Homo sapiens: one gene and its partners. The protein of the gene in region 4 interacts with the protein of the main gene of each other region in a pairwise test. Each region holds a gene or a part of one and is shown on either strand. Other genes may lie near its edges.

What was found. The genes of interacting proteins can lie anywhere in the genome.
Region 1: the proteins of SMAD9 (region 4) and HEYL interact in a two-hybrid assay, tested with the Homo sapiens proteins (one large-scale study listed by BioGRID and IntAct).
Region 2: the proteins of SMAD9 (region 4) and ARHGAP9 interact in a two-hybrid assay, tested with the Homo sapiens proteins (one large-scale study listed by BioGRID and IntAct).
Region 3: the proteins of SMAD9 (region 4) and VPS8 interact in a two-hybrid assay, tested with the Homo sapiens proteins (one large-scale study listed by BioGRID and IntAct).

Annotation. Positions count from the first base shown.
Region 1 is NC_000001.11:39,628,744-39,633,143, reverse strand, and holds part of HEYL (hairy/enhancer-of-split related with YRPW motif-like protein), read left to right. Parts: intron 1-128; exon of another isoform or gene 129-232; intron 233-428; coding exon 429-495; intron 496-1,564; coding exon 1,565-1,648; intron 1,649-2,835; coding exon 2,836-2,917; intron 2,918-4,400. UniProt on the Homo sapiens protein: Downstream effector of Notch signaling which may be required for cardiovascular development. Transcriptional repressor which binds preferentially to the canonical E box sequence 5'-CACGTG-3'.
Region 2 is NC_000012.12:57,473,418-57,476,866, forward strand, and holds part of ARHGAP9 (rho GTPase-activating protein 9), read right to left. Parts: exon of another isoform or gene 3,235-3,449; coding exon 3,173-3,234; intron 3,038-3,172; coding exon 2,947-3,037; intron 2,750-2,946; coding exon 2,654-2,749; intron 2,515-2,653; coding exon 2,416-2,514; coding exon of another isoform or gene 2,359-2,415; intron 2,199-2,358; coding exon 2,066-2,198; intron 1,982-2,065; coding exon 1,874-1,981; intron 1,557-1,873; coding exon 1,458-1,556; intron 1,287-1,457; coding exon 1,209-1,286; intron 1,060-1,208; coding exon 1,006-1,059; intron 760-1,005; coding exon 625-759; intron 292-624; coding exon 186-291; intron 1-185. UniProt on the Homo sapiens protein: GTPase activator for the Rho-type GTPases by converting them to an inactive GDP-bound state. Has a substantial GAP activity toward CDC42 and RAC1 and less toward RHOA. Has a role in regulating adhesion of hematopoietic cells to the extracellular matrix.
Region 3 is NC_000003.12:185,049,635-185,054,004, reverse strand, and holds the end of VPS8 (vacuolar protein sorting-associated protein 8 homolog), read right to left. Parts: intron 2,130-4,370; coding exon 1,980-2,129; 3' UTR 1,401-1,979; downstream 1-1,400. UniProt on the Homo sapiens protein: Plays a role in vesicle-mediated protein trafficking of the endocytic membrane transport pathway.
Region 4 is NC_000013.11:36,849,893-36,855,194, forward strand, and holds part of SMAD9 (mothers against decapentaplegic homolog 9), read right to left. Parts: intron 3,784-5,302; coding exon 3,527-3,783; intron 2,626-3,526; coding exon of another isoform or gene 2,446-2,625; exon of another isoform or gene 1-2,445. UniProt on the Homo sapiens protein: Transcriptional modulator activated by BMP (bone morphogenetic proteins) type 1 receptor kinase. SMAD9 is a receptor-regulated SMAD (R-SMAD).

The DNA of each region.
Region 1 (4,400 bases), on a different chromosome or scaffold from region 4:
GCCCGTGGGAAGCAGCGGCATCTGCTCTTTCCACGCTCGTTCCCAGCGGCTCCCTCTGAAACCCAACCCGCCCGGCCCAGCCCCGCCGCCGCCGGCCAGTGCCCTCGCCCGCCCCGCCCCCGGGGATCGGGTTGCAGGAGCCGGAGCCACCGCGCCGCGGTACGCGGTTCCCCGACGGCCGCCGCGAGGGGCGAGGAGCGAGGAGCGAGGGGCGAAGGGCGAGGCCGAGCAGGTCCGGACCAAGAGCCCAAAGTGGGCCCAGAGTGCATGAGAGGACTTGACCCGGGTTGAAATGAGCCCCCAGGAAGAAGGGGAGAGCAAGCTGCTCCTTCTAGGCCCAGCCTGTGGCTCCTCCTGGCCCGAGGTCGGCCCAGGCCGGGGAGACTGTCCCCCAGCCCTGAAAAATCAGCTTTTCTTTTCCTTTCCAGCCAGATGGCCAGGCCGCTGTCCACCCCCAGCTCTTCGCAGATGCAAGCCAGGAAGAAACACAGAGGGGTGAGTGTCCGTCTCAGCCTCTGAGTTGACCAACAAAGGGTTGCCATGAATCCCCTGCAGTCTGGCGGCGGGGAGAACCCTAGGCAGAAATTTCACCATGAAGCTAACTGCTTGGGTTCAAATCCCGGCTCTGTCACTAGCTATCAGGGTGATTCCAGGCAAGCCTGTTAACCTCTCTGAGCCTGATTTGCTCCTTTGTGTAACTGGAATAATGAGAGGGCCCACCTCAAAGGGCTGCTTTACAGATTAAGTGCATTAATGTAATGCTCTAAACAATAGCAGACACACAATAGGCCATTATGATTGTTGTTCCTATCTTCTGTCTCCTCTCTGAGTCCAGAACTTTCATCCCCCTCAGTGTGCCGGGGTGGGGGAGGGGACAGAAGAAGGATCCCCACTTGCCGCTGTCATCTGTCCATCATGTTCAGCCCCACTTTCCTCCCAGGATGCAGCTGTGTTTCTGCACTGGGAGTCCAGACACCTGGGGTCTGGCAGAGAGCAGCCTGACACTCACTGACTGTAAGCCCTTAGGCAAACCACTTCCTTCCAGCCCTCATTTTCCTTATCTGTAAAATGGGGTCATATCTGTCCTGCTCCCGGTGTTCTGCTACCAGTATTGGAGGGAAGAATGAGAGTGTGTGGGTGGAAGGGCCCTGCAGCTAGAGAGAGCAACACGTGGGACTCCCCAAACCATCTCATGACCTCACAGATGACGGGGTCACCCTCCTGGCCCAGCACGGGCCTCCAGGGCCTGCTCCAGCACCGTGGCTGGTGTCCTCATTGTGATTGGCTGTGCCCTGCTGTACCAGTGGTTAAACATCTTGAATATCACCCCTATAGACCGAGACAAGAGATCTGAGTTGTACTCCCAGCTCTGCGCTTTCTTGCTGTGTGACCTTAAGCAAATCACTGTCCTTCTCTGGGCCTTGGTTTTCTCCACCATAAAGTAAGACTAGATTGATCTCCCTCACAAAAATACTGTGTGGGTAAATATGAGTTGATGACCATCAAGGCACTTTGGAAACTGTGATGACACACCTGTGAGTAACTTCTTGTCATGATTGTTTAGATCATAGAGAAACGGCGTCGAGACCGCATCAACAGTAGCCTTTCTGAATTGCGACGCTTGGTCCCCACTGCCTTTGAGAAACAGGTATGTGACATTGCTGATTGTGCTAGAGGAAATACTGTGTGGGTGGCAGATAAGGTTCGTTTCTCATGGCATCTCTTGTTGATTGGTAGCAGCTGCCTGAGATGCTGTGATCATTTACCAATATCTGTCACTGGCCAGGGTAAAAGGAATGGAAATTTATACTTAGGTGTCTCAGGTGTCTTTATGTCTATCATCCCATTGAATTGACTCCTCAAAATGATCCCAAAGGTTAGGGATTATTATGCCCATGGCACAGGTAAAGAAACTGAAGCACAGAGAGGTGAAGTAACTTACACCAGATCACGCAGCTAGTAAATAGCAGGGCACAGGACTGTGTGATTCTCAAGCCCTCATCCCTCTGCACTACAGACATTTCTAGAGTGACTTGAAAGTGGAAAAGGCTGCTCAGGGAGTGAGCACTCTACCATTGAGCATGTTAGGTGGGGGAACTACAGCGGGGAATCAGACAGTGGACTCAGCCTCAGAAATTCTCACCCTATGCACCAAGGCATAGGTCACGGGTCCTCTGCCTTCCTTTATGCTGGTGAGAACAAGTCAGTCATCCCACAGATGTTCACTAAAACCATCACAGGACCAGCCATGAACTAGACCTAGTATCTGCCCTCAAGGGACTCCCATGGAGCCTCTGATCTTCAGGCTTCACCTGGAAAGCTTAGGAAGCATTTCCCAAGAGAGAAAAGAGGAAGAACAAGTGGTCTGGGGATAAGATGATGAGCTAGATCTTGGGCACATTGAGTCTGAAGTTGGATTCCCTGAAGAGCTGGTTTAAGAGGCATTCTGAGGATGGTGGCTAAAGCCATGGAGGTGACAAGCCTCTCTGCAGGGAGCAGCAGAATGCGAAGTGACACAGAAGGGACAGTACTGTGTTAAGAGACGGCAGATCAAGAGGCATGGTGAAAGGAGAGCCCAGAAACAGTGGTGTCGTGCAAGTCAAGGGAGGAGTGGTTTCAGGAAAGATGATCGGCAGCTGTACAGTGGACAGATGGTCTGAGAGGAGAACTGAAAAGAATGTTCTAGATTTGGAGAACTTGGCCAAAGCAGAAGCCCATTTGCAGGCAGCAGTGGAGTGGGAGGAAGGTGAGAAAATCGAGACAGTGAGTGCTGATGACACCGCACAGCTACATGGTCAGCTGCAGGCTCCACCCTTCTGTCTTCTGTACCCGCAGGGCTCTTCCAAGCTGGAGAAAGCCGAGGTCTTGCAGATGACGGTGGATCACTTGAAAATGCTCCATGCCACTGGTGGGACAGGTACCCATGCTCTTCTCTTTCAGGCGTCATTCATACAACAAATATTTTGAGGCTGGGCCCTGGGGATATGCTGGTGAGCAAAGTCCACACGCTGCCCACTCTGAGGAGCTCAGTCAATGGAGGGAACATTTGCAAAGCTTCTCTCTCTCCTTTCAGCATCTCCCTCTCCACTTTCAGTGTCTCCATTTGTCGCAACCTTTTCCTCAGTTCAGCTCCCTCCAGTCTTAGACCTGGGAGGCGCTTTCTTCTGTAACAGACTGTTCCTATGGGTCCCACTCTTGTCCAACCCAGGACCTCATTAAGAATTCACCTGAATGAGCTAATTCTCACTGGGATCCCAATCTGACCCCCCTTAACCCAGGGAGGAGCCTGGTATCCTACCCACTGGTCTAGCCTTCTGGGCTACTGTGGGGTCCTTGGCAGAACTGGGGTGACATATCATGCTCACCACAGGTCTCAGGATTGTAGCAGGACACAAATTAACTCATTTTGTTATTTTAAGCCCATCAGTTACAATAAAGTAAGGGAACAGTGGCTTTAAAGACACTTCCAGACAAATAGAAATTCTGTCTACTCAAAGTTTCTCTGTGTATTTGGTGATTTCAAAATTGGGAAACCTTGAAAGCTCCACAGGCCTTGGCCACAAAGACCTAAGTTCCAGAGACCTAACTTACTGCTACAGAAGAGGACAGTAGCATTTTAAGTGGCCCATTCTGGTGCTTCTGAAGCCTCAGTGTATACCATTGTCACCTTGGGGCAGGCAGAATCAGGAGTCATCCCCCAGAGATTCTGAGGCAGTAGGTCTAGATTGAAGTTTAGGAGTTTGCAAGTTTAACAAGCCACCCAATTATCCTGGTGCAGGTGGTCCATTTGGGAACTTCTGCCAAAAAAAATGCATTGCTAAGAGTGGAGACTTCCATCTCTAATGAACCAATGGGGGAGATTCAAATTACATTTATGGTTATCCAGTGAAAAGAAAAGTAGTGACTAATATGTGGATATCATTTGACAGTTTTAAAATGCTTTCACTTGTGTTGTTTCATTTGATTCTCACAAGAACCTGCAAGATGGGGGTTAGTGTTACCACCATTTTCTGACTGTGAACTAATGGGAAGACAGAACTGTGGTTCACGGTATAGGCTTTAGATTTGAATCGGGCTCTACTGGTTACTAGCCGTATGACCTTAGACAAATGATTTAACCTCTCCCCTCCTCAGTTTCCTCATCTCTAAAATGGGAATAATTAGAGGGTTTTATGAGGATTAAATTAGATAACTTGATGAAATGCTTAGTAAGAATTCAGCAAATGTTAGAAAAAAACAGCGGGCCGGGCGCGGTGGCTCACGCCTGTAGTCCCAGCACTTTAGGAGGCCGAAACAGGCGGATCACAAGGTCAGGAGATCGAGACCATCCTGGCTAACACGGTGAAACCCCATCTCTACTAAAAATACAAAAAAAGAAATCAGCCGGGTGTGGTGGTGGG
Region 2 (3,449 bases), on a different chromosome or scaffold from region 4:
TAAATAAAATAAAAAAATAAAGGTTTTGACTCTGGTAATATGCTCCTGCACAGAGGTTGCCTGCTTCCTCACCTGCCCATTAAACTTAGGTGCTTCCCTACCTTCACTCCACCTGCACAGAGTCCCTGTGGCATTCCCCACTCCACCTTTCCCCAGCATGAACAAAGAGGTTCTGTCTTCCTGACCTGCATAAATGCTCCAGGAGGTACCGTAGAGTGTCATGGTTGGGCTTTGGCATTGAGCCTATTAATTCTTGTATCTGAGAGAGGCACTGCTCTGATTCGGAGAGTGCTAGAGAGAGTGATGGGAAAGGCATGGTAGTAAGGTTAGGGAAGGTGCTAGGACAGGATGGGTAAATGCACTGCTCTTTCCCACAGGCATGGAAGACATCATTAATCTAGCACAGCTTTCTTTTTCACATAGCCCAACTATAGCCTCATAATTCTTTTCAATTCAGCCCTCTAAACATTCACAAAAAAGCAACTGGAGTAGGCACCTGAGTTGAACATTATTTTCCATCTCTAAAGTCAGAATGGGAAAGAAGAGTATAAGGGAACCTCTATTCTATTATTTACCACCCGTGTCCCCCACATCAAGGGTTCTTTCCAAAGCTCCAACCCTTACCAAGGGCAGCACGGAAATGGGGCAGCAGCAGTGGTGGCACCAGAGGCTGGGGCAGCTCCCGGAGAAAAAGCTTCAGGGCTCCGGTGACCACATGAATGTCATCCCACTCAGTACTGTCCAAATCTAACCGACCTTCTGGAGGGAGAAGGAGGTATAGGGGCTCATGAAGGGCCAGAAAGATTTAGAGACTGAGAGATTAGAAGTTCTGGAGAAATCCAGTCAAAGCAGACTATAGGAATGCCTAGAGGGTCTGCAGTGGGGCAAGGTAGCTAAGGTGGGGATGAGGACAACCCTCCCAGGAATAGTACATGGGGGTTTCCACGGGAAGCAAAGAGGATATGTGGAAGTTTTAGGGATCTGAAGGGTCTTCCATGTAAGTACCTTGTCCTGGCTGTTCTGGGAACACATACCTCCCATCGGAGGTGACCGCACGCTCTGCAACATGAATGAGGAGAGATCAGGAGCTAAGACATACACTTCCAGCCTGACGGCCTCTCTATTCTGCCAGCTTCCTCATGTAGGACCGCCCATGGTTCTCAGGCAAGACATTCTTAGTACAACCACTGGCCCACAAGCCTTCTCACCTCTGTCCACCAGAAAGCGAAGCTTCTGGACCACTGCCAAGTTCCCGCTCACCCGATAAATGCCATCCACATCTAGACCTGGGAGATGAGGAAGGAGTAGATAAGGACTGCTGCTTGAAAGTGTGTGTGGTGAGGGATATAAGGGTGGAGAGAAAAAGGGCAGTAGGAAGACTAGGTAGAATGGGGGAGGCAGAAAATTCTAGGCCTTAGCCTGTTGGAAGAGGATTCTGGGGTCTCTGAGAAAATGACCTCTTTTATCCACAGCAGCAATGCAGAGCCGCAAAAAGCTGGGCACCGTGTCTCCTTCCCGCTGGCAGAGTGATTCCAACTGGCAGCCGAACACCTGGTCTGGGGAAGTAGAGTGAGGCGGGAAGCCAGTGCCAGCGTCACTCACAGGAGCTCTTCTCAGCATAGGTCTTTATCCTTAAGTGAGGCTGGTCCTCCTGGCTGCCTGTGCCAGGCCTGGGCAAGGAAATACACTCCACCTCCCTTCCCCTGCTTCAAACAATCTGGCAAAGGGGTACAGGTCACCCCAGCTTCTCCCCTAAACAATCTGGGGTAGTGGGAAAGCAGCAGTCACAGAAGGTTGTGGTCTAGTTCTGGGAAGCTCTACTCTGAGCCTCGCTGGAGTTTTCTTATCCATGAACCTGGCCCAGCCCCCTCACCTCGGAGCAGACCCCGCTCCTGCAGGCTTTGTAAGGGCGGTCTCTTCGCGATGAGCCGCTTTAGTTTGTTGCGCACGCGGTTCTGCTCGGTGCCTTCGGGCCCCCGAACTGCAGGAGGCAGGTAGAGCGGGGCGTGAGCGCCCGGGAGCCTCGCTGCGCTCCCGGACTCTCCCTCCCCAGCCCGCGCCTCACTGGAGCTCCGGCGGCTGCTGAGGCGCAGCAGCGGCTTGGACACCAGCTCCGACTCCTCTTCTTCGTCCTCCCCGGCGCTCAGCTCCGCGGGTCCAGAGCCCGACAGACGCAGCTCCAGGGGGTTCTCCCGATCCTAGACCCGGGGCGGGCCGTGTCGAAGGTGAGAGAGGAGAGAAATCTGTATCCCTAGCTGGACTCTGACCCACTGCCGGGGTCCCACATCCCGGCCCAGGCAAGGGCTCTCCACTGAGCCCACCCTGCCCCCAACTGCTCCTGACTCCTATCGTTCCTACCCCACTCCCTTGGTCCCGGCCGGTCGGAGCCTCCCTCCGGGCCTCCACCCATCTAACCAGCCGCTCGATGACAGTCCGCAGCGCGCGGTGCCAGGCTCGCAGCTCTGTCTCGTGGTCCGACTGCAGCAGGAACTCGTGGCCAGGGATCGTGCGGATCTGAGGGCCAGGCAAGGAAACGCTCGGGTCAACGGGAAGGAGTATAATAAGCAGGGAGACCTAGCGGGAGGCCTGCGCGGGAGATTGGGGGCGCCCTCGGGTCGGGTGGGGCCTTGGGGACGCGCGGGAGGGCGCTCACGTGCAGGACGTTGCGGCGGCTGGACAGGTGGCGGCCGTGCGCCAGGGCCGCCCCGCGCAGGTCCACGCTACTTTCGGGCCGGCTACCCGCTGGTCCCTGACAATGAGGGAGGAAACTGAGGCCACGGTGTTGTTTCCTTCACTGCTTCCCTCTCCCCGGTGGGCTGTGAGGAGGTGGGAGGCTTCCTCACTTCTTTACTTTCCTCTGCACCGCCCTCCCCGCTGCCGCCCCCACATTGGCGTGAGGCGGTAGGCAGCGCCCGCACCCATCCTGCGCCTCTCGCTCACACTCACCCAGCCTGAGGAGGGCGCTGTCGGCGGTGGCTCTCGGTAGAACACCAGGCTGTTACCCGTTAACACCACCCAAGACGGGCCCCAGTTCTTCCTGCGGGGACAGAGAGGGGAGGTAGTGGTAGCGAACAGGTCATTCTAGAATGACACGAGGAGGGTGCTCTTCCAACACCCTGCTCTACCCTATGGAGTTGACAGCCCAGGCCCTAGCTGTATTCTGGGTTCTCACCTGAGCTTGCGCCCCCCTTGGGCAATCTTGGTCATGTTGAGCAGACCCGACTTTTCCACCTCCTGGGAAGTGGAGGGAATGGGATCTGTAAGTCACCCTCGCCCTCCATAGTGGCCACGGCTTTCCCTAGGGGGTCTCCCAGGAGTGAAGTCCCTTAAAGTTGCTGGGGGAGGGCTGGGTAGGAGGATATTCAGAAAGAGGAAGATGTTTATGTGGAGCAGGAAAAGGGGGGAGGGGGGGCAGGGAGGATCTTGGCCTTCACAAAGAAATGGGAGAT
Region 3 (4,370 bases), on a different chromosome or scaffold from region 4:
AACTTATTACAACTTTATTTTGATTGCATAAAGTTCTGCTTTTACTTCACCCTTCCCACATACATTTCATGTTTTTGATGTCACAATTTGCTTTTTTATATTGAATACTCCTTTGCCTTAGTTCTTTACACTATAAAAGAAGAAAAGGAATAATTGAGTTTTGCTTTGAGAACATCAAGTTCCTTTGGCCTTATTTTAGGCTCAATGAGAAACCTTTTGATACATAACTTGGGGCAGGTAGCATCACTGGCTCTGGAATCACAACTCTGAATTCCACCTGCTCTGCTACCTCTTTGGTAGGTTACCTTGGTGAAATTACTTATCACCTCTGAGCCTCAGCTTTCTCATCTGTCAGCTGGGGTTGAGACTGTCATATAGCTGCGGCAGGCATCCAAGCAATGATGACTTAATGGTTCAACCACTTCCCTCAATTTTATCTCCTGACACCTTCATCAGGAAGCAGTACCCTTGTAGCCCAGGTCTTGGGAGAAGTTATATAATAAAAGCTAAGCTAGCATTTCTGGGGTATTTGCCATGTGCCTCAATGGCACATAGCAAATGTTTACATGTATTATTTCCTCTTCATAACAGTTCTGTTTATAAAGAAACAGAGGCTTAGAGAGGTTAACTGATTTGTTGATTATACGTAGTACATGGCAGAAACAAGATCTATTTTCTATTTAAGAGTTAAAAATTTCTATTGGCCAGGTGTGGTGGCTCATGCCTGTAATCCCAGCACTTTAGGAGGCCAAGGCAGGCGGATCACCTGAGATCAGGAATTCGAGACCAGCCTGGCCAACATGGTGAAACCCCATCTCTACCAAAAATTAAAAAATTAGCCGGGCGTGGTGGTGGGTGCCGGTAATCCCAGCTACTCGGGAAGCTGAGGCAAGAGAATCACTTGAACCTGGGAGACGGAGCTTGCAGTGAGCCAAGACAGCACCACTGCACTCCAGCCTGAGCAGCAAGAGTGAAACTCTGTCTCAAAAAAAAAAAAATTTCTACCTAGTTTATGTATCTATTTCCTGTGGGTTTGGTTAGTATCAGTCCATGAGAGCCTGACGATTCCATTGCACTGAGAAAAGGATCATCTGAGTATGTAAGGTGGAAACCTAGGTGTCTGGGTGTGGCGACCTCCTGTGGCAGTTGGTTCAATGATATACGAAGTCCCATGGCCAAAAACTGAGTACTATTCTCTTTGGCAGCCCAGCGCCTGTCACGGGAGCATATGGGTGGCTGGGCTGCTCTGAATACAGCTGACAATGGAGCTGCTTATCTGAATTAAGGAGGGTTGTCACAGGCAGGATTCCTGACTTTGAGCTAATAAAATTGTGACAACAGGGCTCGAAATGTCCTCCATGACTTGACAGACTGAGAGCCAGCCAGCCAGGAGACCTGCAGAACTTAAACACGGAGCATTTATTGTTAGAAAGGGCAAGTCTTACACTCAAATAGGTTTTAACATGAACACATTAAAGGGAGATGGCCCTGGCCCCCACAGTGTCTGCTCTCTCCAAGGCATGCTTCAGTTATACTGCAGCCTGGCCAACCACTGTTCCCTGTAGAAGTTGAAGTTCCTCTGTATTATCCAGCAGCTGGAGGAGACGGAGTATGGCAGACTCTGGAATGCCATTTGTGTGAGTTCCACCTACTTTCTAGGCTTCAGGGTAAATGGAAAAAGTCGCAATAGGCGAAATGTATTTCCTAAAAAGCTGGACAGAGGTATGTGACATTCCTTTGCTTAACAAGCAAAACAAAATCAATGAGTCTGGTGAACTGACGCCATGACAGCAATGTGGAGAAGACTGGGAGTCTACACTGGGAATGGTGCTGTGGACGCTCTGGGCACAGAAGCCCAATTTGGAACCTCTTCTCAGAAGCGTGGGAGGTGGTGGAGGCCAAGCCCACCAGAGGCGGGGCCTCTCCCCAGCTGCCTCGGGATCATCTCTGGTTCTCCTGGGCCAGGCTCCATGGAGTCATCAATCCTCAGTCACAGGTGGAGGAATGAGCTGCAGCTGGAAGTTCTCATTCTGGAAGATGCTGTTGAAAGCAGGAGCACTCTGCGAGCCACTGAATGGCCTATAGCTCTCGCTGCTGCGATTCTGGGAGAGTTCCGTGAGGAGAGCCAGCTGCAAAGGAAGGACACACATCAGCTAAGGTTTGTGGGGAGCAGAGGGAAGAGAGGCTCCTGAATCCACTGCTTCAGATACATGAGAGACAGTGCTGTGTTGCAGGAGTAGTAACATGCAGGGTTTGAATCTTAGGTCCATATATCACAAACGAGCAGTGTGACTTTGGGCAAGTTCACTTCATTTTTTAGGGTCTAAATTTCCTCATTCAATAATGAGACTGGACTGGTTTGCTCCCAAGGGCACTCAAACTGTGCTCTCTCTGGCACTGGAGAGCTCTCCCACCCTGGGCTGGCCCTGTGCTGAGGGCTCCTCCAGCTGCTGTGGATGGCCCTGCTGCCACCCTTCTCTCCCTGTGGACGCGCCCTGGGCTGAGGAGCTCTGTTCTCAGCTCTGCTTGTTCCAACCTCTCCATCTTGGTGCACTCTCCTCGGGGTGAATGACTAATTATGACCACTGGCTCTGACCTCTCTTCTGTAACCTGGAAGGCCTCAAACAGACACCCAGCTGCCAACTCAAACTCAGGGGTTCCAGAGTGGAACCCCTGGATTCTACCTTCTCCTTCAAGTGAGTCCTCTTTGCTCCCAGCTTCCTTATTCCCACCAATGACACTAGCAGTACCCTCGTTCTGTCAGTGGCTCAATTCTGGAAGACCTGCCAAGGAGGACAGAAGGGTAGGAGGAGATGCTAATGTCGGCCTGTTGGGAAGCCAGTGCTCTGCCACTCAGGGGGACCATCCCTTTCACCTAAAGAGGCTTTCTGCGAAAGTAGGGAGCTGGCAGCCTGGCTCTTGAGGTGCCCTTGATGGTCAGAGGAGAGACGAATTCTACACCCAAGGTCCTTAGACTTCCTGCCTGATTAGGGTCTTTGCCTGTTGCTTCCCAGAACATTGTGAGTTAACTTCCACCCCACAGAGCTAATGTGAAGGAGAACTCAGAGCCCAGGTCAAAATGGTCCCTAATAACAGTAGTTGGGACCTGTGGGATGGGCCACTGTGTCCACTACCAACACTCTAAGGGACCCTGTGTAGGCTCACATGGAGGCCAGTGAAAGCCTGGTCCATGGGGAGTGTACAGCTGAGACGAGGGGGCCATCAGACTCCTCAGGGCAGCCCTGTCTGTGTCTACCAAACACTCCAGGAGTCCGAGGGGATGTCTAACAACCTCTGGTGACTGTATCAAGTGTCTTTCCATGACAGGCACTTTGCTAGATCCTTGACATGTGTGTTATTTCTCATCCTTCACAACACAGTGACTTGCCCTCGGTCACCAGCAGTGAGTGGCGGTGTGGGATTCACCCGCCAGGCACCATGTCTTCGAGGTGCCCTCCGACCTCTGGCAAAGGGTTTTTCCCTCACACAGGCAATGGTGGCACAAGCTCACGTGTCCATGTGTCACTTCTGTGGAAAACTCAGTACCAGTGGCTGTGGTAACTGGGAAGACATCTGAAGGCCCCTAAGTTCTAAGTGTCAATTTATCAAAAGTGGTCCAGGTCCTGGCCCAGAGACACATGTATGGTCTCATTCACAACTCAGTAACTCTGACTCAAGCACTACTCCAGGGGCCAAGAGTCCACTTCGTGCCACTTCCTTCTTCCGTAACCCTCTCAGTTGCCCATCAGCCTGCGACGTTCTCTGCAATGACTGTTATGTACGATGCCTTGAACAGAATGAGCCACAGACGCTCAACTCAATGCTTTCACATCCTGACACTGTGAGGTGGGAAGATCAATTGCAAAAAAAAAAAAAAAAAATTATTTCCCAGGAAAACAGATATTTTTGTGTTCCACTTTGGTAACTTTGTGATCCGGAAATCAATGAGCCTTAAATAAGGGCTCAACAGTTTGAAGCAGAAGAACCTCCTTGGAAGGCCCAGAAACCCAACTCCTGGGGCAGAGCTTAGCTGAGGCTGGAAAGGGATGGGGGTGAGGCCAGTTCAATAAAGCTGCTGGACTGCATCCAGGAGACCCCTAGAGAAACTTCCTGGAATAACAACCTCTGCCCACACCAACTCTCAAAGAAGGAGCACCACTCTTTCCTCCGGCTGCCAAGTAACCTAGTAGGTTCTGCCTAAGAAAGGGGAGTGCGTGAAGGGGGCCCAGGTAGAGAAGCAGAGGACACAGCAGTTTGCACAAGCTCGAGACAAGCTCAGGAACAAATGGGACCACCTAGAATTGAGGTGTGATTTGGGGAGTGAAGAAGATGGTAGGGTTTGGACTCATTCTTTAGGTGGTGGAGATCCA
Region 4 (5,302 bases):
ACTATATCATTCCCGTCAACATATGAACACACTGAAATGTCTTCCACCTTCAAGATACTTCTCCACCCCCCACCAGCTACTGCCCTATGTTTTTATCCCATTTCTGGCAAAAACCCTCAGAAGAGTCATCCATACTAGCCATCTCAATTTGTCTCCTTCCATTCTCTCTTAAATCCATTCTGATCATCATCTCACCCCAGCCGCCAACAAAACTTTTCTTGTCAAGATCAAAAAAGGCCTTCATATTGTTAAAATGAATGATCAGCTCTCAGCCTTTGTGTTATGTGGGCAGCATTTGATTTAGTTCATCACATCCTCTCATCAATGCACTGTCTTTTCTCGGCTTCCAAAGCACCACACTTCTTGGTCTTATTACTACCTCACTGGTTGGTCTTTCTCAGTTTTCTTTGCTGATTCTGTCCCTTCTGTCCCATCTTTAAATGTTGAAGTGTCCCAGGGCTCAGTCCTAGAGCCCCCTTTCTTATTTATTTATTTTAATTTTTTTGAGATGGAGTCTGGCTCTGTCACCCAGGCTGGAGTGCAATGGTGCGATCTCAGCTCACTGCAACCTCTGCCTCCGAGGTTCAAGCGATTCTCCTGCCTAAGCCTCCCAAGTGCTGAGATTACAGGCACGCGCCACCACGCCTGGCTAATTTTTGTATTTTTAGTAGAGATGGGGTTTTGCCATGTTGGCCAGGCTAGTCTTGAACTCCTGACCTCAAGCAATCCACCCACCTTAGCCTCCCAAAGTGCTGGGATTACAGGCATGAGCCACCACGCCCGGCTCTTCTCAGTTTAAACTCAAACCTTTGGTGTTCTCATCCACACTTAGGGAGTTAAATACGGTCCCTTTGCAGACAATTCCCAAATTTGTATTTCAAGCCCAAACCTCTCTCCCCGAATCCAGACTCTTATATCGAACTGGCTACTCAGCAACTCCACTTGAATGCAACGGACATCTCAATTACACCTGCGTCTTCTCCATCTTGATTGAAGGCAACTAACTTCATCTTCCTCTTTTTCTCCCACGCCTGATCCGCCTTCACAATTCAGAATCCTTCCACTTCTCACAGCTGTACTGGATCCCTCCAGGTGGGGGCGACTCTCACCTGACTATTACTATAGCCTCCTAAGTGGTTTCCCTACTTGCAACCTTGCCTGTATAATATCTATCCTCCACACAGCAGGCAGGGCGATCCTTTAAGAATAGAAGTTAGATCATGAAAATGCTCTGCTCTGATCCCTGCAAAAGCTCGCCACCTCCTTACAGTCACCGCTGAACTCGTAGCAGAGGTTCAGGAGGCCTTGCTATGGTTCCCTGCGGCTGCTCTCATCTCACTTCCCCTGCTCATTAGGCCCCAGCCACACTGGCCTGCCTGCTCTTCAGAGTTTCCAGGTGTATGCTGTTGCCTTGCTCTTCCCTCTTCTTCTGCTCTTCCTCCAGGGGTCCCTGGGCCTAGCTCCATGTCTCCTTCCAGTCTCTGCTGACCTGTCACCTTTTCAATGAGGCCCACCCTCATGTGCAGATGACTCCACTGCCCCCGTGCTCCAATTCCCTTCACCCTGCCCCCAGACTTTCTCTTTCCATCCTTCTTCTGTGTTTTGGCTGTTGTTTATTATCCATCTCTCCTTCCTAGAATATTGGTTCCCTGAGGTCAGAGATCTGTGAGTAAACATTGGCATGTCCCACGTGCCTGGCCTGCACATGGCAGGTGCTCAATAAACATTTGTTGACTGACTAAGTCCTAGAATCAGTAAAAATCAGAGCTGAAAGAAACCTTAAAGAGATCTGATCCATCAGCCCAGTGGTAGCTACAGCTGCTCATCTCAAATGTTAAAAAAAAATGATCTATAGTTATATTTACTATGTATTTATTTTAAAAGTTCCTGCAGTATTAGGAACAGTTTGTCTTCTGTGTCAATTGTGTAGCTTTATGAATGTAAATGCTGCCTATCTGAGAAATGTATCTAGTTATTAGGAAAATCAGATTTCTATATAAGCTTATATTTAATCAGAGTGAAATAATTACCTATGAGATATTGGCATTTCATCCTAATTTTAAAAACACAGACCCGGAAAAAAAAAAAACTGTATGATTCAAATGATGCCCTCTGCCGTTTCTAAAGCAACAGAACATTTGAAAAGATTTCGAAGTTATTTGTTAATATAACTTTATAATATATGCTTTCAAAACACTAAATTTGAATGAAACTGCTTTGTCACCATGAAAGAGAAATAATTTCAAGCAGCTGTTTTTTAAAATTGGAAACTATATTGTTCTTACTTTTTAAATAATTACTAAAGTGATAATAAAAACATAATTTGAGTATAGAAAAATTATTTGTCATGGTAATTTTAAAGTGCTAATAAAATTTACTTTGAAAAAAATGCCTGGAACAAGCCATGCTGATTCCCTGGATGGAATCATGGCAGTAAGAAAACTGTCACACATACCCCGATACTTTGATAAGCCCATATTTTGAAATACTAGACTCATTTGCGAGTACTTTGCAACAGACAAAATAGCAGGTGATGAAACTGAAGGCTTTCACTTCCATATACAAACCCAGTTGTCTTTCCTTCCCACTAAGAAACTTCCTTGGTTCTCCAGCCTTCATAGCAACCTTAATAAGATTCGATATGAGAAATTCAACAAATATTCATCAACAGAACATATACTGCTCTCTGAATTAATCACACCCGTTTCTATTCCAAATTGTTTATACCTTTATAACACTACTTAGTTTATTATCTTGTATTAGAACCAACCCTGCCTATTTTTGTAGCTTATTCATAAATATTATCTCCTCCATGTGCCTGTATGCTTTCTAAGAGTAAGGAGAGTATCTTACTGAATTCAGATAAATTCACCAACATTCACTGAGTGATAACAGTGCTTGGCAATTGGAAGGATGGAAAAAATCTCTGTTGCACTAGTCCTGTAAAATTACTGTTGTTACTTTATCATCTGCATTAAAAACAATCAAATAGCCACCTTGTTTTTCCTCAAAAGTAATGTGTAACAATTTTCATATAATTGCTAAACAAGACAGTTTATACTCAAAGAGGAACTCCTCCTAAAAACAATAGAATTCAAAAAAATTGGTTTTGGGCTGGGCGCGGTGGCTCACGCCTGTAATCCCAGCACTTTGGGAGGCCAAGATGGGAGGATCACAAGGTCAGGAGTTCAAGACCACTCTGGCCAATATGGTGAAACCCTGTCTCTACTAAAAATACAGAAATCAGCCAAGCGTGGTGGTGCGTGCCTGTAGTCCCAGCTACCCGGGAGGCTGAGGTAGGAAAATCGCTTGAACCCGGGAGGCAGAGGTTGCAGTGAGCCAAGATCATGCCACTGCACTCCAGCCTGTGTGACAGAGTGAAACTCCGTCTCAAAAAATAATAATAATAATAAATTGGTTTTGTCTATCAGAATTGACCGCACAACTGCCTGCCACATCAGTCAGGGTGCTTTTTTGTTTTGTTTTTCACTGAACATTTTATAACGTGATAGCAAGCACTCCTTACCTTAACAAAACTCATCCGGATAGTACACATCTTGGTCAGTTCATACACGACTTCAAAGCCGTGGTGAACTGACTGGGCCAGGAGCTGAGCGAAGAGCTGGTTGTTGAAGACCTTGAGGCTGCAGCCGCTGGGGATCTTGCAGACGGTAGCTGGGTGGAAGCCGTGTTGATAGTTGCAGTTCCGGCTCTGCACAAAGATGCTGCTGTCACTCACGCACTCGGCATACACCTCTCCCCCGACGTAGTACAAGTGCACACCTGCAGACACAAAAACACAGCCTTCCTTCACATGCCCTTTCATAGCGTGCCTCTCCCACTGATTCCTGAAACCCTAGGAGATGTGACTCTCCCATCAGGTTGTCAGATCACTGATCAGATGAATGAGATGTGTGACCTAAATGCCGCTTAGTTTAATGATAATCTGTGCTTTTTCCACAAATCCATTTAAAAGTGGATCGCAGCTGGGTGCGGTGGCTCACGCCTGTAATCCCAGCACTTTGGAAGCCCGACGTGGGCAGATCATTTGAGGTCGGGAGTTCAAGACTAGCCTGGCCAACACAGTGAAACCCCTTCTCTACTAAAAATACAAAAATTAACCAGGCATGGTGGTGGGCACCTGTAATCCCAGCTACTCGGGAGGCTCAGGCAGGAGAATTGCTTGAACCTGGGAGGCAGAGGTTGCAGTGAGCCAAGGTAGCGCCACTGAACTCCAGCCTGGGTGACAGAGCAAGATGTCATCTCAAAAAAATAAATAAATAAAAATAAAAAAATAAAAGTGGATTGCAACCCATGTTAACAATCACTCCCAAGAACCAGTCAGTAAGGTCTCATATACTATTCCTCCCATCATTCCTGTTTATTTGTTCCAAAAATAAGGTTTTATAATATTAGAAATGAAGTGAATATATCACACAAAAAAATCAAGTAATCCTTCATTGTACATACACAAATTTTATTTTTTTTTTTTTGAGACGGAGTCTCGCTCTGTCGCCTAGGCTGGAGTGCAGTGGCACGATTTCAGCTCACTGCAACCTCTGCCTCCCGGGCTCAGGTGATTCTCCTGTCTCAGCCTCCTGAGTAGCTAGGATTACAGGTGCCCGCCAACACAGCTGGCTAATTTTTGTTTTTTAGTAGAGACGGGGTTTCACCATGTTGGCCAGGCCAGGCTAGTCTCAAACTCCCAACCTCAAGTAATCCACCCGCCTCGGCCTCCCAAAGTGCTGGGATTACAGGCATGAGCCACTGCACCCAGCCCACAAATTTTAAAATTTAAAACTGGACACAGTTAATATCATGAAAATGTAACTTAAGTGCACATATTAAACCTACCTCAGAGGAAACAATAAAAGACACTTAAAAAATTTACCAATACTTATAAATCTGTTTCTCTTAACAAATACCTCAGAGATCTATTTCAATTAAATTTGTCATCCACTAATATAAATCATATAAATAATGTCTATTTTGATTTGTGAAGTGAAATTTCTACATTTTCAGATACAGTAATATAAAAACTCATAAGCAAAATATAGCCTACATCACTTTATCTAATATTCTTGGAATTAAAGTTCAAAAGAGCATCTTGAGGCTGGGTGCTCACACCTGCAATCCCAGCACTTTAGGAGGTCAAGGTAGGTGAATCACTTGAGATCAGGAGCTCAAGTCTGGCCTGGCCAACATGGTGAAACCCTGTCTCTACTAAAAAATACAAAAATTAAGTGGACATGGGGACACACGCTTGTAATCCCAGCTACTTGGGAGGCGGAGGCTGCAGTGA